6 separate regions of the Homo sapiens genome follow, and all the other regions are reported to be linked to region 2. Evidence: microRNA targets listed by miRTarBase, many of them from high-throughput screens and not tested one by one. Region 2 holds a microRNA gene; each other region holds the end of a gene's coding sequence.

What was found. The annotated mature microRNA hsa-miR-3689d reads GGGAGGUGUGAUCUCACACUCG and lies in region 2 at 1,445-1,466, shown strand. An mRNA with a match to its seed (bases 2 to 7 or 8) in the 3' UTR can be bound and repressed. Matches are read on the target gene's strand: a 7mer-m8 pairs with bases 2 to 8, a 7mer-A1 pairs with bases 2 to 7 and ends in A, and an 8mer does both.
Region 1: miRTarBase lists TSPAN6 as a target of hsa-miR-3689d. The part of its 3' UTR that is shown has no 7-base or 8-base seed match.
Region 3: the mRNA of TBC1D25 is a reported target of hsa-miR-3689d. Seed matches in the 3' UTR shown: 7mer-m8 at 290-296.
Region 4: the mRNA of LRRC3C is a reported target of hsa-miR-3689d. The part of its 3' UTR that is shown has no 7-base or 8-base seed match.
Region 5: the mRNA of HACD2 is a reported target of hsa-miR-3689d. Seed matches in the 3' UTR shown: 7mer-m8 at 302-308 and 7mer-m8 at 1,888-1,894.
Region 6: miRTarBase lists ATP8B2 as a target of hsa-miR-3689d. Seed matches in the 3' UTR shown: 7mer-A1 at 2,646-2,652 and 7mer-m8 at 2,641-2,647.

Annotation. Positions count from the first base shown.
Region 1 is chrX:100,627,425-100,631,512 of GRCh38, forward strand. TSPAN6 (tetraspanin 6) reads right to left here. Exons shown (of 8, transcript NM_003270.4): 7 at 3,335-3,442; 8 at 1-2,562. The coding sequence ends at 3,374. Among named protein-coding and RNA genes, the nearest start is that of TSPAN6, 7.3 kb to the right of the region's middle.
Region 2 is chr9:134,847,038-134,851,125 of GRCh38, reverse strand. MIR3689D1 (microRNA 3689d-1) reads left to right here and starts at 1,444; the gene lies at 1,444-1,517. MIR3689C (microRNA 3689c) reads left to right here and starts at 1,757; the gene lies at 1,757-1,828. MIR3689A (microRNA 3689a) reads left to right here and starts at 1,562; the gene lies at 1,562-1,639. It overlaps MIR3689B (microRNA 3689b), which reads left to right and starts at 854; the gene lies at 854-1,001. It also overlaps MIR3689D2, MIR3689E, MIR3689F and LOC101448202.
Region 3 is chrX:48,560,761-48,564,848 of GRCh38, forward strand. It overlaps TBC1D25 (TBC1 domain family member 25), which reads left to right. Exons shown (of 6, transcript NM_002536.4): 6 at 1-1,849. The coding sequence ends at 215. Among named protein-coding and RNA genes, the nearest start is that of RBM3, 12 kb to the right of the region's middle.
Region 4 is chr17:39,944,490-39,948,577 of GRCh38, reverse strand. LRRC3C (leucine rich repeat containing 3C) reads right to left here. Exons shown (of 4, transcript NM_001195545.2): 4 at 3,579-4,088. The coding sequence ends at 3,844. Among named protein-coding and RNA genes, the nearest start is that of GSDMA, 16 kb to the left of the region's middle.
Region 5 is chr3:123,491,088-123,495,175 of GRCh38, reverse strand. HACD2 (3-hydroxyacyl-CoA dehydratase 2) reads left to right here. Exons shown (of 7, transcript NM_198402.5): 7 at 206-3,622. The coding sequence ends at 288. Among named protein-coding and RNA genes, the nearest start is that of ADCY5, 44 kb to the right of the region's middle.
Region 6 is chr1:154,348,718-154,352,805 of GRCh38, reverse strand. It overlaps ATP8B2 (ATPase phospholipid transporting 8B2), which reads right to left. Exons shown (of 28, transcript NM_001370597.1): 28 at 1,502-3,966. The coding sequence ends at 3,688. Among named protein-coding and RNA genes, the nearest start is that of ATP8B2, 25 kb to the right of the region's middle. RefSeq lists enhancers at 2,508-3,491, 3,492-4,088.

The DNA of each region.
Region 1 (4,088 bases), not on the chromosome of region 2:
CTCACTCCCTCTGCCATTAGGATTGTCACCATGGAAATGAGCAGACCTACTGCCTCCAGTGGAAACTGGATCTCTCTCTCCAATCTAGTGATCCCTCTTTCTAACCAGCTAGTCTAATTAGCAAACTATTAAAGACACGTGAACTTTCCTTTGTACCAGTTATCATTAGGTGAAATGTTTCCTCATTACTTTCAGAATTAAGTATACAATTCAGTATGCACAAGCACACATCAGCTATAAGGGCGTTTTCTAACTGGCTATCCAAAATAAACCCATCTTAAAAATAAACAAACCAATCCACCTGACGAGTGATGTGTGGTGTTTTTCCTCTTTCTACATTCTATATTTTAATTTTCTATAATTTTTCCTTTTTAATAATGAGGGAAAACTTTTTTTTTTTTTCTGAGATGCAGGTTCACTCTTATCGCCCAGGCTGGAGTGCAGTGGTGTGATCTCGGCTCACTGCAACCTCTGACTCCTGGATTCAAGTGATTCTCCTGCCTCAGTCTCCCAAGTAGCTGGGATTACAGGTGCTTGCCACCACACCCAGCTAATTTTTGCATTTTTATTAGAGACGGTGTTTTACCATGTTGGCCAGGCTGGTCTAGAACTCCTGACCTCAGGTGATCCGCCCGCCTCAGCCTCTCAAAGTGCTGGGATTACAGATGTGAGCCACCATGGCTGGCTGAGGGAAAACTTTTTTAAAAACTCTAAATATAACCTTAAAACATTCTTCAAAACCACTGCAGTGAAAAATATGTATTTGAAAATTGCTGATAATCCTTTAAATATTTGCTTCTTTAATCTCAGTAGCCAAAAATCTGATTTGCTGTACTTGAGTCACTATTTTTCAACTTAATTTTCTTATCACCTTATCCTATGTCAAAAGTCACACATCAAATGTTCTAATGGAGAATATCATTTTTCTGCAATAACTCCAAGCATTTTAAAACACATACTCAAAATTCATGATCATTTAACTAGTAGTTTTTGCCCAGGTTTTTTTCTAACTGTAACTGACTCCCCCTTACCATCAATTCAAGGACTGTGGCAATCAGACTAGACAGGTTCTACTAATGGATGTATAAAGAGACTCAAAACCAAAGAAATAATTCCCTGACTTCAACTCAAATTTTAGTAATTATTATTTTCCTTATTAATTTCCCTATTATCCTGAAGATACAGGTTACATCCCTCCCTGTACAACTTTTTAATGCAAACTATACAATCAAAAAAGTCTGATCTCTAGGAGAACACTAGTCATATGCTACTTTATAACATGGAATATAATTTTTTTCACAGAGAACAGTTTTTTTTAATATTTGCACTTTAAGATTTTTTTGTTTACATTAAGTTCTGGGATACATGTGCAGAATGTGCAGGTTTGTTACATAGGTATACATGTGCCATGGTGGTTTGCTGCACCTATGGGAACAGTTTTTTTTAAACAAAAACATTTTTTTTAATACAGAGTTAAGGCCGCAGGCTTATATTTCACATCTAAAAACAGTACTCTGAATAGAAATGTAGGGCTTAGCTTTCTCAGTGGAAAACAACAACCATTCCAGCAGATTTTCTACAAGTTAATTTAAACACGATCTTTTTAGAGGAAAGCAGTATTTATTGTATAAGAGTTATACTTATTAATCAAAGGCACAAACGAAAACTAAGACTTAAAGTTGACCATAATATTGACAAGTCATATCAACCTGGTACCAGCTAAATTTAATGAAGATAAGTTCCACTGAATTCCTAAGGAAAATACAACAATTCCGACACCATTTAATAATTAGAAACTTTCAAACAAGAGGGAAAGTATGAACATCATAATAAATGCCTCAATTTGGAGGCAAAGAAATGTAAGTTGTGTGCTGAAACCTGATGTATCACAGAACATCAGTAGTCCCTTCCAGTCGTGGATGCCTTAGACCCAAGGCCTTACACTGTTATCACCATCTGGCAACCCTGATGAGGGATGCCATCTATTGACTGACTGAAATTAAATTACACAATGTGACTCTCTGCCTGTCAGCAGAACAGAGAGTCATAAAACATTTTAACTTCTTGGTGCAAATTATACAATCAAACCAGATAACCTTGACTGGGAAGGAGCCAGTTCAGAGGGGTGAATTTTCTATCACACTACATCAATAGCAAAGTCAGAGGAATCAATTTTCCATCTTGTAACACTACATCAAAATAGCAAATTCACAGTGCCTTCCAAAGGCCCCCTACTAAGAAAAATAACAGTCAAGAGGAACACAGTATTACTTCATTTACAATTTACTAGCTCTTCCAGTGTTTCAGAGGGATACAGGGTTTCAACGATCTAACATGAATGGGATAGAAGGTGGACTTAGAACATAGCAAACATACATCTTGATTGAATCAGCCCACTGCGAGCACGGATCTTGATTGAATCAGCCTATTGGTGTAGTTTTAGGTCTACATACATCTTGATTGAATCAACCTACTGGTGTAGTTTTTTGGTCTATCAGTAAGTAGTGTTGTCAGTTCTCCAGCCAAGCAACTTTCTAATTCACAGGGGGGACCCTAAATGTCCTAAAATTAAAGAAAAAAAGTTAATGTACTTGTTACCCAAATTTCAACATCTGTATTTGCTTACATACATTCTAATCTATTCCTGCTAATGAAGACCTTCCTATGTGTTCCTAGTCAGTGGCTCAAGTAAAATGCAAAGTGTGCCCTAGGGATCAATTCAGCCAACAACAGTTCTCACAGTATTTTACCAGTCAAATACTAACGCCATTGAAACACATGTCTTCCCAAAATCTGGTTCCTTATTAGACCAGATGAGTTTACGGTTTTAACAAAAGCCCACCAAAAACATCTTTTTACCAAGAAAGCCACACTCTCAACAACTGATTAAGATTGTGGTAAATGAAAACTACGAAAAGGACTAAGGAAAATGTCAATATTGGTGAGGAGCAGAGTGCACCTGCCAGGGAACCTCACGAATAAGGTCATTCTTGGGATTCTTTGTTTCTCCTCTCTCCAGGCCAAAACATGTTAAAAAAGGGACCACTTATGATCTTTAGGCTGACATGTGTATGTAAATATATAAACCCACACGGGGAGTCTTCTGTTGCATAACTGTAGAGAGCATGCATAGATAAGCTGTAGCTAAGTCATTACTTTCTGACCATGCCCTGTGTATAGAGACCTAACCTGCCTACACAGGGTTTACATAGCACCAGCTAGATTTAAATATATTACTAGACAAGACGTTCTTGGCAAACTTAGTCCATGCATCACATACACAGGCTAGAATAAATATCAACACTAACAGAGCTGAGGACCAAAATGAACGCACCTTAAAGGTAGAGAGGAATAGGCCCACAGATACATTGGGTTACACTATCTCATACTGGTTATTTGTTATGGCACGAGAGAGGCAGTAGGCGAGAAAGATTCCAATCAGCTAGAAATAAAATAGGAACAAAATTAAATACATACACAAAAGAACTTGAACACCTCAGACTATATTCTCCTCTCACTTGTAATTCGCTTATAATTTTCGTCCTTGAGTTTTTCTAGAGTTATGTTTAATACTCTGCAGCATCTAGATCACATTCAAAGAATCTAAGTGAAGTTTTATTGCCACTGTGACCCAGAATTTCACAACTCTCACCAAAGGAAAATCCAGCAAACTCACTCAAGGAAAATTCAGTCACGAGTTTTGAAGAAACTTTTCTTACTCTCATTTCCCAGAAAAAACAAATACATGGTTTTCAATAAGTATCTTAACAAGTGAAATCTCCATCAACGAGGGCAGAGATTTCCCTGGAAAGATCCACAGCAATGCTACAATAATGAAAATGTTCTAGAATCCCTGTACTGTCCGATATAGTAGGCAGCAGCCACATGGCTACTAAGTATTTCAAATCTCCAGCAAACTGAGGTTTTAATTTTATTTAATAATTTATAACAATTCAAAGGTGGCTAGTGGCTACTGCATTAGCATAGATTTAGATATAGCTTTGCTTACTACTTTAAAAATATATTAAGACGAAACTTGAATTAGTCTTATTTCTAGTGTTTAATATAAAAAAAAACGTTCAGAGCCA
Region 2 (4,088 bases):
GGGGGCTCCCCGGATGACTTCAACAGGCAGCCAGGTGGGGGCCACTGATGGGCAGACACCAAGAAACACCAGGAACACTTCTGCTAAGCGCTGGCCTTGTCCCATTAAGAACCTGTGGCTCCCCTGGGAGGTGTGATCCCGTGCTCCCTGGGAGGTGTGATCCCGTGCTCCCTGGGAGGTGTATCCTGTGCTCCCTGGGAGGTATGATCCTGTGCTCCCTGGGAGGTGTATCCTGTGCTTCCTGGGAGGTGTGATATCGTGGTTCCTGGGAGGTGTGATCCTGTGCTTCCTGGAAGGTGTGATCCTGTGCTTCCTGGGAGGTGTGATATCGTGCTTCCTGGGACGTGTGATGCTGTGCTTCCTGGGAGGTGTGATCCCACACTCGCTGGGAGGTGTGATCCCGTGCTCCCTGGGAGGTCTGATCCCGTGCTTTCCTGGGAGGTGTGATCCCGTGCTCCCTGGGAGGTCTGATCCCATGCCTCCTGGGAGGTGTGATATCATGGTTCCTGGGAGGTATGATATCGTGGTTCCTGGGAGGTGTGATCCCGTGCTCCCTGGGAGGTCTGATCCCGTGCTTCCTGGGAGGTATGATATCATGGTTCCTGGGAGGTATGATATCGTGGTTCCTGGGAGGTGTGATCCCGTGCTTCCTGGGAGGTGTGATCCTGTGCTTCCTGGGAGGTGTGATCCCATGCTTCCTGGGAGGTGTGATCCTGTGCTTCCTGGGAGGTGTGATACCATGCTTCCTGGGAGGTGTGATCCCACGCTCACTGGGAGGTGTGATCTCACACTCGCTGGGAGGTGTGCTATCGTCTTCCCTGGGAGGTGTGATCCTGTTCTTCCTGAGCGGTGTGATCCTGTGCTCCCTGGGGGGTCTGATCCTGTGCTTCCTGGGAGGTGTGATATCATGGTTCCTGGGAGGTGTGATCCCGTGCTTCCTGGGAGGTGTGATATTGTGGTTCCTGGGAGGTGTGATCCCGTGCTCCCTGGGAGGTGTGATCCCGTGCTCCCTGGGAGGTGTGATCCCGTGCTCCCTGGGAGGTGTGATCCCGTGCTCCCTGGGAGGTGTGATCCCGTGCTCCCTGTGAGGTCTGATCCTGTGCTTCCTGGGAGGTGTGATATCGTGGTTCCTGGGAGGTGTGATATCGTGGTTCCTGGGAGGTGTGATCCCGTGCTTCCTGGGAGGTGTGATCCTGTGCTTCCTGGAAGGTGTGATATCGTGGTTCCTGGGAGGTGTGATATCGTGGTTCCTGGGAGGTGTGATATCGTGGTTCCTGGGAGGTGTGATATCGTGGTTCCTGGGAGGTGTGATCTGGTGCTCCCTGGGAGGTGTGATCCCATGCTTCCTGGGAGGTGTGATCCCGTGCTTCCTGGGAGGTGTGATCCTGTGCTTCCTGGGAGGTGTGATACCATGCTTCCTGGGAGGTGTGATCCCACGCTCACTGGGAGGTGTGATCTCACACTCGCTGGGAGGTGTGCTATCGTCTTCCCCGGGAGGTGTGATCCTGTTCTTCCTGAGAGGTGTGATCCTGTGCTCCCTGGGGGGTCTGATCCTGTGCTCCCTGGGAGGTGTGATATCATGGTTCCTGGGAGGTGTGATCCTGTGCTTCCTGGGAGGTGTGATATCGTGGTTCCTGGGAGGTGTGATCCCGTGCTTCCTGGGAGGTGTGATACTGTGCTTCCTGGGAGGTGTGATCCCGTGCTCCCCAGGAGGTCTGATCCCGTGCTTCCTGGGAGGTGTGATATCGTGGTTCCTGGGAGGTGTGATATCGTGGTTCCTGGGAGGTGTGATATCGTGGTTCCTGGGAGGTGTGATATTGTGGTTCCTGGGAGGTGTGATCCCGTGCTTCCTGGGAGGTGTGATCCTGTGCTTCCTGGGAGGTGTGATCCTGTGCTTCCTGGGAGGTGTGATCCTGTGCTTCCTGGGAGGTGTGATATCGTGGTTCCTGGGAGGTGTGATCTGGTGCTCCCTGGGAGGTGTGATCCGGTGCTCCCTGGGAGGTGTGATCCTGTGCTTCCTGGGAGGTGTGATCCTGTGCTTCCTGGGAGGTGTGATATCGTGGTTCCTGGGAGGTGTGATCCGGTGCTCCCTGGGAGGTGTGATCCAGTGCTCCCTGGGAGGTGTGATCCCGTGCTCCCTGGGAGGTGTGATCCCATGCTCCCTGGGAGGTGTGATCCCGTGCTCCCTGGGAGGTGTGATCCCGTGCTCCCTGGGAGGTGTGATCCCGTGCTTCCTGGGAGGTGTGATCCCGTGCTTCCTGGGAGGTGTGATCCCGTGCTTCCTGGGAGGTGTGATCCCGTGCTTCCTGGGAGGTGTGATCCTGTGCTTCCTGGGAGGTGTGATCACATGCCTGCTGGTGATAGAGAGGCACAGCTCCCCATTGGGGAACAACCAGGACCCAGCCCTGGGAGGTGTGGATTCAGGAGGGCCCCAGAGGCCTGCATGAGCTAGTGAGAGCTAGGAGGTGGTGTCCGCACTGGGAGCGGGACCCACACAGAGGGCACGTGGGGTAAGCATCAATGAAGTTCCGGGTGTCAGCCAATTGCACCCTCCCAATGGCCCTGGAGCAGTTGCAAAAGCTTCCTGCTCTCCCATCGTCCCCTTCTCCAACCCACTCCCGAATGCAGACGCCCCTGGCCCTCCTGGGTGGCCAGAGCCTGAGGACACTCACTAGGACAGCCCTGGGCAGCTCAAAGGAGCACTTTGGCCTGGCACAGGCCAGCTCCAGGGATGCCCCCACCTTCCTCCACATGCATGGATCGGGTTTCGTCACCAAGACATCTGCAGGACAGGAGCGGGGCCTCTGGCCACATGGCCAGAGTGCCTCCTCCATTCATGGGTCCCATGTGCAAATGGGCAGACAGGAGCTCTGAGCAGCAGATTCCCCGAGGCCACATGGGGCACTGGTGGCATCTGAGCCTGGGTCGCTGAGGCAGCTGTCCTCAGCCTGGTCTCACCAGGCCACAGCTGTCAGTGGGTAAACGTGTGTGCGCGTGTGTGTGTGCTCCTGCGGCACTGTGGGGGTCATGCCTGTGGCTGAGCATCTCCTGGAATTCTCTCGTCTCACTTTCGACCTCCTCTTCTCAGCAAATCCCATCAACCCCATCTTTGAAACACCTGGAGCCGGAGTGTGACCCACTCTCATGGGTCTGCACCGCCCCCAGCCTGCGTCTGGGTTACTGCCCCGTGTGGCTTCCCTCCCCATCTCTGCTCAGGCCACACCAGCCCCCTCCCACTTCCCCTTCCTCTCCCCACTCCCTCTGGCCTCTGCCCTGCTGTTCCCTCTCCTGCAAAGCCCTTCCTGCCCGCTGGGCTCCAGGCAGAGAGAACCTTCCCAGTGGCCCTGGTCACCCAGGAGAGCACTTCAATCCCCACCCCACACACACTACACACCCCATACACACAGGCACACACACCACACCCACACACACACTATACAGACACAGCACAAACCACACACACAGGCATGCACACTATACACATGCAGCACACACCACACACACAGGCACATTCCCCACAGGCACGCACACATATACCATACACACGCCAGCACACACACCACACAGGCACATGCACAAACACCACCTCCACACACAGGCATACACCACACACACACACACCACACACACCACACACACAGGCACACACACCACATACACAGGCACAGCTCCCCACAGGCACACACACACACCACACAGGCACACCACACACACAGGTACACACACAACACACATACACTTCACATAAACACAAATAGCACATGCAAAATACACCACATAGCACATGCACACACGTGCCATACACACATGCACATCACCCCCCCCACACACACACAACCACACACATGCACATTGTCTCCTCCCCTTTACATTTCCTCAGGTCTCATTCCTCTGGGCACACCTTACCCCTGCCTTGTGGGTCTTGGTCAGCCCGTGTCCCCTGGAGTGGCATCTCCTTGAGGGTGGGTTCTCCCCTGCTGCTCCCGCCTGGCACACAGCAGGTGGTCAATGAACTGCCACTGAAGGAATGGGGGAATGAATGGATGAATGAAAGAGTGGATGGATGGATGGATGGATGGATGGATGGA
Region 3 (4,088 bases), not on the chromosome of region 2:
TGCTGTTCCTCTGCCTGGCCATCCTGCTGGAGCACCGCGACCACATCATGCGCAATGGGCTGGATTATAATGAGCTGGCCATGCACTTTGACCGCCTTGTGCGAAAACACCACCTGGGGCGCGTCCTGCGCCGGGCTAGGGCTCTCTTTGCTGATTACCTGCAGTCAGAGGTGTGGGACTCAGAGGAGGGGGCTGAGGCCACAGCCGCATCTTGATCAGGCTTTCTCAAGCCCTCCATCGGCCCCACCAGATCTCCATTCTTTGCCATGAGGGCCAACACATGAGACCCCACCTCCCTCCCTGCCTGCCAGCCCTAGACTTGTTGGAGCATAGAGCCCTTCCTCCCCAGGCCTAAGTATGTGGAGCTCTGCTTTGGCACTGCCCCGCAGAGGCCACGCCTATTTATTCTGTTTCTGTTGTTTTGTTTTTAACAACTATACTTTGCACACATGAAGGTCACTGTGGTTTGTGTGTTTCTCTGCCTCCTCCCTGGGTTTTGCTGTAGATGGAGTCCTCAGGGGCCCTTTACCTGATGGAGGGGAAATACTTCACTTGGTGGAGAGAGGCTCCAGCTTCCCCCTTGTGATGGGGAGAGTGGATGCTGACAATCAGTTCCCAAAGGTGAGCCCAGGTGGAGCACTGCTTGAGGAAGGCCTGAGTCTGTTTTTTTGGTACATCCATCGGCCTGTAAGGGTCTGTATTATGGCTGTGAATATATGTTTTCAGGACAGCCCCCTGGATGAGAGATAAGAGAGTTCCTGGCTCAAAAAAGGACAAGATTCTTTACTGAGATTGGGAAGTATGGGCTACTTAGAAACGTTGGAGCAGCCACCCCTGGCATTCCACATGTCACCATTTCTAGGATCTTGGCCTCTCTGTGAGGTTTATGCACCAATGCTGGCAGCCCTGGGCAGGGGCCTCGGCCTCCTTTTTGTTTTCCACTTCAGACAGGTACCGTGCAGATGTTAACAAGGTTTGAGCGAGGTGCATCTCACACAAGTGTGAAAGCCCAATCATCACATTGTTGAATTACAAAAGGATCTAGGGCTCCTATTCTTGTCACTTGCTTTGGAGCCAGTTTGAAAGACTGGCCTAGCCCATGCCTAGCGGCCCTAAACTGGGATTCCAGCTCACAGCACCTGTCTTAACCATTTCAGCAGTAGAAACCACTTATTTACCTTCTCCATCTCACTAATATGGACAAACAACAAGCACTGATAAAACGCAGGCCCTAATAGAATTCACTTCGTTATTTGGAGGATAATGATCAAAAAAAGGTCCTTTTTCCCACTGACATGCTCAGAGGGTGGGATTCTCTCACAGGCCAGGTGCTGTCATCCACAAAGGATGGGTGAAATAACTGGGGTCCTCAGGTCACGGTCTAGCCACACCAGCTTCTCCCAAGTACTAACCAGGCTTGACCCTGCTTAGCTTCAGAGGTCAGACAAGATCTGGCATGTTCAGGATGGTATGGCTGTAGACCAGGCTGGGTTCTGGCCAGAGCTGTTGCACTAGGCAATGCTGCCAGAGATGAGGAGGCATCAGGGCAGTCATCCCTTCTGCTGTTTGCCCCAAGAATGCCATACAAACCTGGGGATGACCCTTAAAAGTCTCCCGTCACCCCCAGTATTGGGGGGAAGCTGACTATTCCTCAGATGATAGCCCAGTCACTTGAAGAACAGGACAAGACTATTCTGTGTCTAGGGGGCTCAAGCACTGTGTGTGGGTCTAACGAATGCATTTTGTGGAAATGGGCTCAGACTCCCCAAAGGGCCATCCAACCTATGGGAGTGTCTGGCCTTCTGAGGTCCTGAAATGTCTCTTTTGTCAGTAAACAGCTAATACCCTCTGGGATGCATTCTGTGATTTATGAGCTCAGGTGTTTGAAGGACCAGACAAGCCAATTCTGTGGATAGTAGTTTGGGACCTCTGAGAGATAGAAGAGTCCTTTCTGTGAATAGGAGGCTCAGATACCCTGAAAGGCAGAAACCTCTAATATTCCTCTAGGATACTTGGGGTTTCTGGTTCCTGCAAAGATGGCAGACAGCACAAGCTACTGATTCCTTTGCCCGAAACCAACTCTGGAGAAACTAGAGAGGGAAACATGGGTTCCAGAAATTGCAACATAGCAATGAGAGACCCATGGGGAAATGGAAGGCTGTCTTTAACTGGTGTGTGTTTTGACGGGCGGATGGCCAGAGGCAGTAAATAGAGGATAGGTTAGGGAAAAAGATATTTAAGTTCTGGCTCTCACCTCTCCCCTATATTGCCTTGGGGAGGTCCTTGTTTGCCCCCTTCATTGCATTAATCATCCAAACCACTGGTACACATGTCTGGGGGACTAGGATCAGGGCAGCAAGGGCCCTGCAGGGGAAAGAAATAGGCAGCCAGAGGAAATCAGTCCTCCACCTGTCTCCCTCCAGACACCCGGGCTGGTGGATTACACCTAAGGAGACTGCCACCTCTTTTTTTTTTTTTTTTTGAGACAGAGTCTTGCTCCATCACCCAGGCTGGAGTGCAGTGGCGCGATCTCAGCTCACTGCAACCTCCGCCTCCCGGGTTCAAGGAATTCTCCTGTCTCAGCCTCCTGAGTAGCTGGGACTACAGGTGCCTGCCACCATGCCTGGTTAATTTTGTATTTTAGTAGAGACGGGGTTTCACCTTGTTGGTCAGGCTGGTCTCAAACTCCCGACCTCAGGTGATCCACCCGCCTCGGCCTCCCAAAGTGCTGGAATTACAGGCGTGAGCCACCGCACCCAGCCAAAACTGGCACCTCTTAAAGCGGTTTTCCTCCGACGGTTTAAAGATGAACCCCACGCTAGGGGGATTGTCAGGTGTCCAAAGGGCAGGTGAGCGGGATAACTGTGCTTCTGTGGTACCTGTGGCTGTCCAGCCTCTGGCTCCTCTCCCACACATCCTTTTACCCCTGGAGCTCCAGGTCATTAAGCTGACTCGAGTCAGGCCTTCAGCCTTTCCTCAGTACGTTCTATCAGCCAGGAGAGCGGATAATTTCAGGGGCATGTAAGTTCACCACCAAAATAACCAGACACCAGGGCAGTATGACTTCCACCAAAGAAAAAATAAACTGGACATTCTCTAGTGCTGGATAACAAATTACCCCAAACTTAGCCACTTAAAACATCACAGTTTCTGAGCTGGGTGTGGTGGCTCACACCTGTAATCCCAGCACTTTGAGAGGCAAGGCGGGCAGATCACCTGAGGTCAGGTGTTTGAGACCAGCCTGGCCAACATGGTGAAACCACGTCTCTACTAAAAATACAAAAAATTAGCTGGGCATGGTGGCACACCTGTAGTCCCAGCTACTTGGGAGGCTGAGGCAAGAGAATCGGTTGAGCCCGGGAGGCGGAGGTTGCAGTGAGCCAAGATTGTGACCCTGCACTCTAGCCTGGGTGACAGAGTGAGACTCTGCCTCCAAAAAAAAAAAAAAAACAATAAAAACCATCACAGTTTCTGAGGGTCAGGAATCTGGAAGCAGCCTAGCTGGGTAGTTTTGACTCATGGTCTCTCCTGACGTTTTACTCAAGTTGGCAGCCAGGACTGCAGTCAGATGACAGCTTCACTTGGCTGACAGACCCACTTCCAACATGGCCCACTCATCGGGCAGTTGGCAAAAGGCTTCAATTTCTCACCACCTGAGCATCTCCGTGGGGCTCCTCACAACATGTCATCCTAACGAGCAGGTGAGACCGTGACCAAGACGGAAGCCACAATGTCTACCTTAACCTCAGAAAAGACAGACCATCATTTCTGCTGTGTTACTGGTCACATAGACCAACCCTAGCACAACATGGGAGGGGACTATACAGGGCATGAATACCAGGAGGCAGGAATCATGGGGGGCTATATTGGAGGCCGCCTCCTACACTGGGTAACATATAATATCTGAAGCAGAAGTATTGAGACAGATGAAAAATTTTAAATAAACATAATAAATAAAAACTATTAGAATATAGGGCTGGGCGTGGTGGCTCACGCCTGTAATCCCAACACTTTGGGAGGCCGAGGTGGGCAGATCACAAGGTCAGGAGATGACACCATCCTGGCTAACATGGGGAAACCCCGTATCT
Region 4 (4,088 bases), not on the chromosome of region 2:
TGGAGTGTAGTGGCACGGTCTTGGCTCACTGCAACCTCTGCCTCCTGGGTTCAAGCGATCCTCCTGCCTCAGCCTCTTGAGTAGCTAGGATTACAGGCCCGCACCACCACACCCGGCTAATTTTTGTATTTTTAGTAGAGACGGGGTTTCACCATCTTGGCCAGGCTGGTCTCGAACTCCTGAGCTCAGGGCCCACCTTGGTCTCCCAAAGTGCTGGGATTACTGGCTGGAGCCACCGCGCCCGACCAACAGATTCTTGTCGAATGAAGGGGTGGGCTTGTGGTGGCATCCATTTGGCAGCTTGGGGGCCTTGTTCTGCTTTCCCTTTGCCTTCCTGGTTTGGGGTGACTGTTCCTTGGAGGTAAGAGAGGTTGATGATGGCAGATTCTCAGAGAGCTAAGGCGAAACCATTTCTAGCAGTTCGAACTCCCTTTAGTCCAATGGGGGAGGCAGTCCCTCCCTTTGGAATAAGCTCCCCGGGTTCCTCTGGCTTTGATGCCCCTCACTCTGTAGGAGACCTCAGTCTTAGGGTTGTGCTCTCGAAGCCTCTGTTTGTGAGCCCAATTCAGGAAGGGGTGGAGCTTCACTCCCCCTCAGCTGGGTGCTCCCTCAGGGTACCCTTGGCTTTCTCTGCCACTCCAGGCCTCAGCTCTGTAGGGCAGGAAGAAGCTGGTGGCGGAAGGGCTGTGTGGGCCTGTAATCGTCCAAGGGGTTCAGGTTGCGTGCTGCCTAGACAGAGCCGATTTATCAAGACGGGGGAATTGCAATAGAGAAAGAGTAATTCATGCAGAGCCGGCTGTGTGGAGACCAGAGCTTTATTATTACTCAAATCAGTCTCTATGAGCACGTCGGGGGCAGAGTTTTTAAGGATAACTTGGTGGGTTGCGGGGAAGCCAGTGAACCAGGTGTGCTGATTGGTCAGAGATGAAATCACAGGGAGTCAAAGCTGTCTTCTTGTGCTCAGTCAGTTCCTGGGTGGGGGCCACAAGATCAGAGGAGCCAGTTTATTGATCTGGGTGGGGCCAGCTGATCCATCAAGTGCAGGGTCTGCAAAATATCTCAAGCCCTGATCTTCGGAGCAGTTTAGGGAGCCTCCAGCGGCACGACTCCTAAACCATAATTTCTGATCTTGTGGCTAATGTTAGTTCTACAAAGGCAATCTAGTCCCCAGGCAAGAAGGAGGTCTGCTTTGGGAAAGGGCTGTTACTGTCTTTGTTTAAACTATAAACTAAGTTTTTCCCAAAGTTAGTTCAGCCTATGCCTAGGAATGAGCGGGGACAGCTTGGAGGTTAAAAGCAAGATGGAATCAGTTAAGTTAAATCTCTTTCACTGTCTCAGTCATCATTTTGCAAAGGCAGTTTTAGGCCTCTCCCTCTCCTCTCATCACAGCCCACTGGCTCCCTGATGCTGCATGTGGTGACAAGTTGGGACCTGGGCCCAGGCCGCGGGAACTCTTGCCTCAGGCCTGGGTTAGCTGTAGGCTGGGCTGTCTTGGTTCCTGAGCCAGGTTCCAGCATTTCCTGGTGGGAGAGTTTGGGACTGACACAGTGTGTCTCCCAGAAGAGCGTGCCTTTTCTCTCCCTCTGTCCCAGGCAGAAGGGCAGATGCGGGCAACATCACCGAGGCTGTCCAGCTGCCTCACCAGGCTTCCGTGGTTTCTCAAAACCCAGGGTCCTGTGATCCCTGGTCCATGGCAGAGGTGAGGATGGGAGTGAAGCCAGTTACGTCACCCCCTCCTGCCTGCCCAGTGGACAAGCACAAGCCCGGGGTCAGGATGCAGAGGGAGCAGTCCGGGATTCTGGGGCAGTCGTTCCATGCAGGAGCCGCTCTGAGTGTGTCGGCACAGTCCTGGCCAGTCCAGCAGATGGACTCTGGTGGCAGGGGCTGGGGAGCAGAAGGGGAGATGGGAAGCTGGCCTCCAGCCCAGCAGGAGCACCCCCGACCAAAGGGGTGGTGGAGGGGCTGAAGACAAGCTCAGCACCCGTTCTCTTCACCAACAGGCCACAGGTGCCCAGGAAAATGAGCAATACGAGATCGGAGCATTGATAAAAGTGACTTTATTGAGTTGTCCAGGGTCTCCTTACTTCCCCCAGCTCTGCAGTCACCCATCCCCAGCTCAGTCATAGAGGAGACCACCTTCCCCCCAGAAGAAGGAGCTCAGGAAACTAATCAGTGTATAAAGGAGAGGACGGAGAGAAATAGGGAGTCTCTGGTTAGGGACCTTGAGTCGGAGGAGGGGATCCTCAGTAGAGGGCACAGGAGGAAGAGGAGCCTGGGGACAAGAGAAGCAAGAAGCCAGGGGAGGCTCTCAGTAGAGGCGGAGGGAGAAGACAGGAGGAGCCCACAGTGTCCTTTTAAATCTGGCCACAGCCTGGCTTTTGACCTCGCCTCCAGCTTGGTTCCACCCACCTTCCCCTTGCCCCTCTTTGCACCCTCTCTTCCAGCCCCAGGGTGAGTCTTGCTGCTGCCCAGACATTCTGAGTTGTTGCACATCTTCCTTGCCTTGTCCACACCTTTCATCTAGGGGCCTTCTCTGCTCTTGCTTTTCTGTCCAAAGCTCTCCCTGTTCTTTTTTTTTTTTTTTTTAGAGAAGGTCTCGATCTGTGGCCCAGGCTGGAGTGCAGTGGTGTGATCTCAGCTCACTGCAACCTCAACCTCCTGGGATCAAGTGATTCTCCTGCCTCAGCCTCATGAGTAGCTGGGATTACAGGTGCCTGCCACCACGCCCGGCTGATTTTTTGTATTTTTAGTAGAGATGGGTTCCTTGGAGGTAAGAGAGGTTGATGATGGCAGATTCTCAGAGACCTAAGGCAAAATCATTTCTAGCAGTTTGAACTCCCTTTAGTCCAATGGGGGAGGCAGTCCCTCCCTTTGGAATAAGCTCCCCGGGTTGCCTCTCGCTTTGATGCCCCTCACTCTGTAGGAGACCTCAGTCTTAGAGTTGCGCTCTCGAAGCCTCTGTTTGTGAGCCCAATTCAGGAAAGGGTGGGGCTTCACTCCCCCTCAGCTGGGGGCTCCCTCAGGGTACCCTTGGCTTTCTCTGCCACTCCAGGCCTCAGCTCTGTAGGGCAGGAAGAAGCTGGTGGTGGACGGGCTGTGTGGGCCTGTAATCGCCCAAGGGGTTCACGTTGCGTGCTGCCTTGGGTGATCCACCCACCTGAGTCAGTTCGGGCCTGGCGCGCTCACGCCTGTAATCCTAGCACTTTGGGAGGCCAAGGCGGGCAGATCACGAGGTCAAGAGATCAAGACCATCCTGGCCAACATGGTGAAACCCCAACTCTACTAAAAAATACAAAAATTAGCTGGGCGTGGTGGCGCGCGCCTGTAGTCCCAGCTACTCAGGAGGCTGAGGCAGGAGAATCACTTGAACCTGGGAGGCAGAGGTTGCAGTGAGCGGAGATCCTGCCACTGCACTCCAGTCTGCTGACACAGTGAGACTCCATCTCAAAAAAAAAAGAATCAGTTCAAACATCCTACAGCGAAGCCTTTGAAATCGCCCTGGGCCAGGTGCAGGCTCCCTCCTCAACCTGCCCCCCCACAGCCCCTCCTCCCTTGCTCCCACCCCACCTGCTGTCATTCTCTGTTATGGGTTTTCTGAGTCTAGCACAATCCAGGCACAGAGTAGGCACCAAAAAACTCCAGGCACCAAAGATGGTGTTGGTTAAGACGACACAGAGAGAGAGAGAGAGAACCAGCACAGGTATTTAGGGGGAATAAAGGAGGGAGGGGTGGGATGGGCTTGGGGGCAGGGGTGAAGCTGCACAGGAGGCAGAGGGGGTCAGAGCAAAGGAGAGGGCATAGGGGCAGGAGTGTGGGGTGTGGCTGGAGGAGCATCCTGGGTCATCAGACCACTGTGCTGAGGATGGAGGAGTCCTCGGAACGCACGGGCAGCACTGGGGCCCGCTTGAGGGAGCGCCTGGTCTCATCTCGGTTCTGCCACACATAATGCACCAGATAAGCCACCATGAGTGTCAGCCAGCCCCCCATGGTGACCAGCAGGGCCACATCGGTGCTCCTCCGGGCCCCACCCCACCCCGACCCACACAGCTCTTCCTCCCCTGCCAGCAGCAGGAACTCCTGCCCCACGA
Region 5 (4,088 bases), not on the chromosome of region 2:
TCTTCCCTCAGCTAAAGCAGGAAAAGAAAGGAGGTAAGTCTCTCTGTGTTTTTTCTTCCTTTCCCCAAGCCCACTTTGTTACCTTCCTTGGTTGCTGGATGAGAAATTAGTCAGAGGGTCAGAGAGGACCTCAACTTCATATGCTTTAAATAGAGCATATGCAATTTTAAACCATCCTCTTAACCAATTTTTCTTTTCTTTTCAGTTTTTCCCCAGTTATACTTCCACATGATACACCAGAGAAGAAAGATCCTTTCTCATACTGAAGAACACAAGAAATTTGAATAGTTCCTGCTTTCTGCACCTCCCACCAAAACAAACTTTTCAATGATCAAAAAATGCTGCAGATTTTTTGAGTTCCCAATACGTTTCATAGAAAATAAGTAAGAACTATTTTTAAAATATTCAAACAAAACTAAAACAAAAATCCAGTGTCACATGGGCCTGAGATTTTATTTTAGAAAAAGGTTGTTACATAAAACACCCTGGCCAGTTCATTTCAGCATGCTCTTTCAACCAGAAGTTCTTAATATTTATGATGGCACTAGAAAGGGATTTGGCATTTTATGTCCTTCTGTGTCCTTCATGTATCTGATCAATGAAGACCTGTAACACTAAGTACTTGAGAGTTACAGTCTGAATAATGAAGTCGTACCAGCTGAATAGCCCAGCTTGCAGTATAGTTATGTTTCAGTCTGCAGTGTGTTTAGCATTCCCTTGTCAAAGTGCTTGACTGCATGCTGGAAACTTTGTATTTTTGAAGCGGCAAACTCTGTTCTCTGGAATGCTCTGAAGTTATGGCTGGGACCTATCCCCTCACATCTAATGAATGAATTATAAAATGTATATGTCTATGAAGCTTCGGGGTAGTGCCTGTAATCAGAAAACAACTTAGAACCCTTTTGTTTGTTTCCAATTGAGTCATTACTGCCTGCCACTAAGAAACGTGCTTGAATCTAATAAGTATGTGTGTACCGTAAAGAATATATCTTATCTGGAGCTCAGCCTCAATCATGTCTTAACAAAATGACAGGTCTCAGAAAGGGGGAGCTCAATAGCTCAAAAGTGACAAGTCCTTTTCACAGCACCATTCTCAGAACACCTCTGAGTAACGTGTTTGCCAGTAGCTATTCTCACTGATGCACTGATGGCCCTGAAGAAGCGGATCCAGTCACATAGGAAAGGAGGCTGTGTTAGTGAAAGCACATGGAAGGTGTTGCTTTAGAAAGGTAGTCAGGAAAAACATTCAGGAATAGATTTATACACCATTATTGTTTTATTTTTAAATTTTCATTCACTCTTCTGTTTGGATACTTTTGCTAATTAACTTCCTATGTTAATTTCCACCAAGCTATAAGTCCATAGTCAGTAAAACATTCCCCTTGGGCTGTCATGAGCTAAAAGCAGTGTCATCTCCGCATGTTGGAGCAGCCAAGAAATAGTTTGGTACTACCGACATTGTCTAATCCATGTCACATCCTCATACAATTTAATTGCTCAACCATGCATTTAAAACTCCTCAAGAAAGGATTGGTACTGCAACTGTAGGTAAACTGAAAAAAAATAAGAAAGAAAGAGTTGGATGAAAATGTGAAAGCCCAAGTTTAGATGTGCATTAAGTATTAAATAGCACAGTATCTTCTTCATGGAGCCTTTTTTCCTCCCCCATCCCCTGCAGCTGCCTTTTTTTGGGGGCAGGGTGGGGGTTGATGTTGAACTTTAAGAGTTTAAAAGTTTAGCTTATTGAGTAGTTGTCATTTAAAATATAATTGCGAATATCAGAAAACTCATACTGGAAAACTAAATTTTTTTTTTCTCTTGAGACGGAGTCTCGCTCTGTTGCCCAGGCTGGAGTGCAGTGGCGCGATCTCAGCTCACTGCAAGCTCCACCTCCCGGGTTCACGCCATCCTCCTGCCTCAGCCTCCTGAGTAGCTGGGACTACAGGTGCCTGCCACCACACCCAGCTAATTTTTTTTGTATTTTTAGTAGAGACGGGGTTTCACCGTGTTAGCCAGGATGGTCTTGATCTCCTGACCTCGTGATCCACCCGCCTCAGCCTCCCAAAGTGCTGGGATTGCAGGCATGAGCCACTGCACCCAACCCCTGGAAAACTAAATTTTTAAGTGCTTATTTTTATAGAAGTTTGAAAATTTAATGCAGGCAGGTGTGTAATAAATTATTTTTGAATTGAACATTAAAATTCTGCTTCTTAAAGTCAGCACTCAACTTGGACATGTTGAAATTAGAATCTATTCTTGTATTTGATAGACAAAATATGTGGGAAAGATTTTTTGCATGACTTTTCTCTCATTTTATTCTTCCATAATGTATTTCTACTATAAAATAGAATCAACTTGGGTTATATTTGTCATTTACTTTGTTCTGTTAGATTTTTTCAGTTGTTTTTGGAAAAATTCTAGAAATCAGGATGAAAAATGCAGCTTTTCCAGGGTTGCTGGACTGGGGGTTTTATTTGGGCCTCCTTATTATAATTTGTCACTACTTATAAAAAACATTCTGTTGCAAACAGTGGTGTTGCATTGAATTGAACTTTGGCAATGAGAACACAGCACACAGCTCCCTTTTCAAAAAGGGTCTCAACCCCAGTGTGTATTTTTGTACATCAACATTTAGAATACTTATGGCAGATAAGTAAGGCATGTCACTGTGTCCTTCAGTAACCTCTCTCAGTAACTGGTTTCTTTATCCCTAACATGAATTCATTTCTCCTTTGAAGTCATTTATTATTTTATAAATTGAGAACAACCACACCACCAAATGTCACACCTTCTTATAAAGTGTGAACAAGGAAGGTCATGTTTTTGTGGGTATTTTGTCAGACTTAGAGGTTTCATTTCAGGGCATAGTCAAAGGCATCATCCTCCCAACTACCCACTTGATTATGTATTTCAGATCCCTCCGTGGGGGCCTTCTTCTGACAGAGAATTCTTTGAGGTCCGCAGTAGTGCTTTTGTCAGCACAGACTGCTAATCTACATCTTGCTGCGTTCTGTTTGCTGAGGTTGGGCTTATTCATTTAACACATACCAACCATTATCCAGAGGCACCATGGAGAGTTAGTCATGGAATAAAGCACTGTCCTTGCAGATGAAAAAAGTCTCCAGAGCAGACTTCTGACAGGAAAGGTTTAGATGCTGGAGAGTTGAAGAGGTGTAAGAAGAGATCGTGCCCTCATTTTTCACTTATTTTTTTGGTTATTCATTTATAATAAAAGGTTGGCATTGATATGGTACAACCTGCAAATTACTTGCAGTTCTGAGTTTCAGATAAAACATTATAAAACATTAAATTCAATACATACTGCTCCTTTGAAATTTGGGTAAAAAATTGTACAACCGTATATATAGTCATTTTTGTATTTTTTCTATGTTGTGAAAACCAAAATTGTAATTTTATAAGTCTTTGATTCACTAAAATTATATAATTTAAATGTATTTTTTGTATATTTAGAAATAAGGAGTCCAGAGACTACGCTTAACTTTCTATGCATGCATTTGAAAGCTGTTTTTACCTGATAATGTAGTAATAAGTTGTATTCATAAAATACTGATCTGTGTTGCATTTCAAAATAAACTGGTGTGTGCTCTGCCTGGATTTGAAATACCTACCAGTGAGTGCAGTGATTTTTCATAGTCAGTAGGCCTGAATGTGGTGTTGCAGGAATATGGGAGAATTTCAGTTCAATTATGGACTCCAGCTCTTTGACAATTTTAAAATCTAATTCTGCTATTCATAATGGTTCTGCACTTACAGGAAAGACAGATTATATTAAGAGGTTTCCAAAAAGTCCTTCCCTGCCAGTCAGTCTTCAGGCTAAGCCAGTCTGCAAGCTGGCTGCAGAGGGACAAGGGGTTCCTCATGCAAGTGACCAGGGAATCTAAGATATTAATCAGCATGGGGTTGAGGAACCTTGTCTTATAACAAGCTGGGGTTTTGTTAGTGTAACTTTTCTTTTTTTGTTTTGAGACAGAGTTTCGCTGTTGTTGCCCAGGCTGGAGTGCAATGGCACGATCTCAGCTCACTGCAACCTTCACCTCCCGGATTCAAGCGATGTTTCTGCCTCAGCC
Region 6 (4,088 bases), not on the chromosome of region 2:
TGGAGATAAGCAGGCTCAGTGGAACAAAGCTGCGGTATCGGACAGACTTCACCTCCACGCACTCAGAAAAGGCACTAGGACGATGGGGACCTAGGGGCTGGAAGCCACTCCCACAGGAGCCCAGGTGCTCAGTCAGCGCAGGGAAGGAAGACCAGGGATGCCTGCGGCAGAGGGGAGAAAACGGGGAGCCCGAGTGCCCGGAGCCTCCGTGGAGGCGTGTGTCTATATCGCGACGGAGAAAACGCGTCCCCAAGAGGCAATGAAAGTTAAAATGACATTGGCCCTGCCCCTCAGACACACATAATAGGATCCTGGGTGCAGGAGAGCCAGGGTCAGCGAGAGGAGCCAAGGAAGACATTCCCAGTGGCTGAACAGACCCCCAACGGGAGGCCAGCGCAGTGCTGAAGACCTGTCTTGTGGGAGGGGTGGACTTGGGGCCTCACCAGCCTCAAGGGATTAAGGCTTCTTTCTGTGTTTCGGGGGTGGGGGCACTGAAGCCAGATGCCACTTGCTGCCCAAAGCTCAGGGTTCCAGACAGACCCCAAAGAAAGGCTTGTGTGGACTGGACAGCCTCTCCCTGGGTGGAGGTGGGTGTCAGGTGGTGTTCCTGGCGGTCTGTGGCGGGATTCCCGCCAGGGGCCGTTTCTCCTGAAGAGGGAAACAGATCTTATCTTCACATCTTCCCCCCATACACCCTCCGCTCCCCCACCCTTTTTTTTTTTTTTTTTAATACAGGCGGGGTCTCCCCATGTTGCCCAGGCTGGTCTTGAACTCCTGGGCTGGGCTCAAGTGATCCTCCTGCCTCAGCCTCGCAAAATGCTGGGATTACAGGCATTGAGCCACCACACCCAGTCTACGTTTTTGAGAAGGATTGTTCCATAACTGAAGACTGGCTGGGTCAGGGGGAAATTAGCCTGCGGGTGGGGCTGGATCATGCTGATATTGGCCATCGGCGGAGGAAGCTATACTTCTTTCTCCTCAGGCCAGCACTAACCCTGGCCCTGACTCCTAGGACCCCATCCTCATCCGCCCTCCCTTCCCTGGAGGAAAGCTCCCTTTAATATAAGACTTTAGCTTCCTTGATACTCACTTGAGAAGCCAGGAAGATGTGAGGCATGCGGAAAAGCGCAGAGTTAAAAAACAAAACCTTACAATATTTACCAGGTACTTTCCCTACACACACATCCATCTGGCGTGTGTTAGGGATGACAGGTTGGCCTGCGTTTGGAGAAAGGTAAACAGCTCAAGGTCCTAGGCACCCAGCCAAAGTCCATACGATATGCCGCTCAGTACCACCCACTGCCCCGTCTTCATCTTCAGCTGAAACTCAGATCCCGGGAGGTCTGCAAATGGATGAGGTGCTATCCCACACCAGTCAGATTCCAATTTGTCCAAGATATCCCAGATCTACCCACTCAATTACATTTAAGAGACAGTTTCTGTCTTTACTTTCACCACCAGTCTTGGTTAAACATCAGAAAAGAGACAAATTACACACTTCTCAGAAATTGAAATTTTATAAAAAGGCATTTTTCTCTTATATCCATAAAATGATATAATTTTTGCAAGTATAGAAATGTGTCATAAATTATAATGTTCCTTAATTACAGCTCAATGCAACTTGGTACTTTCTTCCCTCCCTAAAAAACGAGAGAGAACCAAAAAATAATATATATATATATAACTGTATATATATATTTATATAATATAGACAAACAAAATATGAAAAAAAATCATTTCCTCTTTGGTATAAAAATCAGACTCTCACCTTGAGAGACACACAGACAGACATGATACTGGGTTTGTAAACTGTGTGGCCAAAAGGGATTTCCCTGCCAAGACTTCCCCTCTCCCATTCCCTGCCCACCCGCCCCCACCTCACTGCAGCCCATCCAGTTCCTTTGGGGCTCCCATATGGAACATTTAAAATCCCCCTACCCACTCCCAGCTCCAAACCATTCCTGAAGAATCCCCCGACCCACTATCAAAGAAGAGGAAAGGATTCTTCTCAAGGCTGATTAGGTAGCGACTAACTTGGGAAATGCCTTATTTAGGGAATAGCTTCATAGGTGTGGATGAAGTAAAGGACAGGCTGTGGCCAAACTCTGACAGTGTCCCATCCAGACCAAGCCAGGCACTGGCCTGGGCCTGGTTTTGCCCTTATCCTCCTCTACTACCCGGCACAAGGATTCCACCACCTCTTGCCAGAGGCTGGGCCTGAGGGGCGGGGCTCCTTGCTTACTGAAGAAGGGAGCAGAGAGGCCAATTCCCGTTCCAGCCTCATCTCAGGTGCACAGCTTCCCCCTGCAGCCCCACCACAGGGCCCTGGGGTGTAGATGCAAGAAAGCACCAGATGGGGAGGCAAAGGGAGGTCAAAAGGGAGTCTGCCAATAAACTTGGGTTTAAATTTAAAATTAAAGAAAACTACGCCTCCCTGAGCTGGGTGTGGTGGCTCACGCCTGTAATCTCAGCACTTTGGGAGGTTGAGGTGGGCAGGTCAGGAGGTCAGGAATTCAAGACTAGCCTGGCCAACATGGTGAAACATCTCTACTAAAAATACAAAAATTAACCAAGCGTGGTGGTGTGTGCCTGTAATCCCAGCTACTCAGGAGGCTGAGGCAGGAGAATCGCTTGAACCCAGGAGGTGGAGGTTGCAGTGAGCTGAGATTGTGCCATTGCACTCTTGCCTAGGTGACAAGAGTGAGACTCCATCTCAAAAAAAAAAAGAAAAAAAGAAAAAGAAAAAAGAAAAGAAAACTACCCCTCCCCACTGACCAAATTTCAGACCCAGCTTTAGCTCACTAAGGATTTGGGGGCCACTTTCCTAGGCTCCAGCCCAAGGCCAGCAGGACTAAGGAATCCAGGAATTGATATGTGTGTGTGTTGGGGGCAGAGGGCAGCACTTTACTCTCAAGGTGAGGAAGCAGACAGGACCAAACCCTCCTTTACACTCTCCCACTACCCTCTGCTCATGGGTACCTCCCTCCCTGGTCAGCTCCTCTGCCCCACAGAGCACTGGTCACTGCAGGCAGAGCCGACATGGATCCTCCCAAACCACCCCACAGCCGGCCAGGCTGCGGCATCCCAGTGTGTGCCAGCCTCCTTTTCCCAGGAGAGTTAAGACACCAACCACAACATAAAAGTCACATAAAAGCCTCCTCCACTTGCCAAATAAAAAAAGACAAAACCAAACTGGACACAACACAAATCAAGGAGAGACATACACGATGTGAGGGGCCGAGGCCCCTGCAGGTCTCTGGCTTCCCGGCATGGTACATTCTTATGTAATTCAGGAACAGAGGCACTAGGGCCCCTCTGGGGAGTAGGAGTAAAAAAATAAGGAGATTATAGTCTCCCTGTGGGTCCCAGGCAGGGCAGGGGCAGACACAATCTCTCACAGTTTTTTCTTGTTTTTGGTTCCACTTCTGGTCCCCGAGTGGGGCTGGCTCCCCGTGCCTCAGCCTCTGCTCTGCCCTTGGGCCTGCTCCCTCTAGCTCCCCAGCTGGTGGAAGGGCCTACAGCTGGGAACAGATGTCCCAGCCATGTGTGGTGGGACCAGCAGGACAGAGTCTACCGGGGGGACGGGAAGCAAGGAATGAGGACCAGCAGTTCCGAGACGCTGTTCCCTCAGTGACTGGCCAGCCCTGGGTGCTCTGGTCACTGGCACAGGGCATCCATCCTCGGCCTTCAGCCCTTGAGGGGCTTGTCGGCACCGCCACTGGGGCTACTGGCACTGTCACTCTTCTTCCTGCGCAGGCTCTCAATCCAGCTGGAGCTGGAGCGGGTGGTGAAGCTGGAGAGCGCGAGAGAGCTCAGCCGCATGTTCTTGCCAGACATGATGAGCTCCCCGAAGCCCTCCTGATGGGAGAAGGCATAGCCGGAGCGCCGGGAGCCAGTGCGGCCAACCCGCCGCATGCAGCGGTGCTGGGCCTTCTGCTTCTTCCTCACGAGCTGTGTGTAGCGGACCTGCAGAGGGGCACAGGGAAGAGCCCTCTGTCAGCGTGGAGGTGTCAGATATCGCCAAGGAGAAGGGACCCACAGCACCCGGGACCAGGCTGACACAGAGGCCTCCGACCCACAGCACCTGG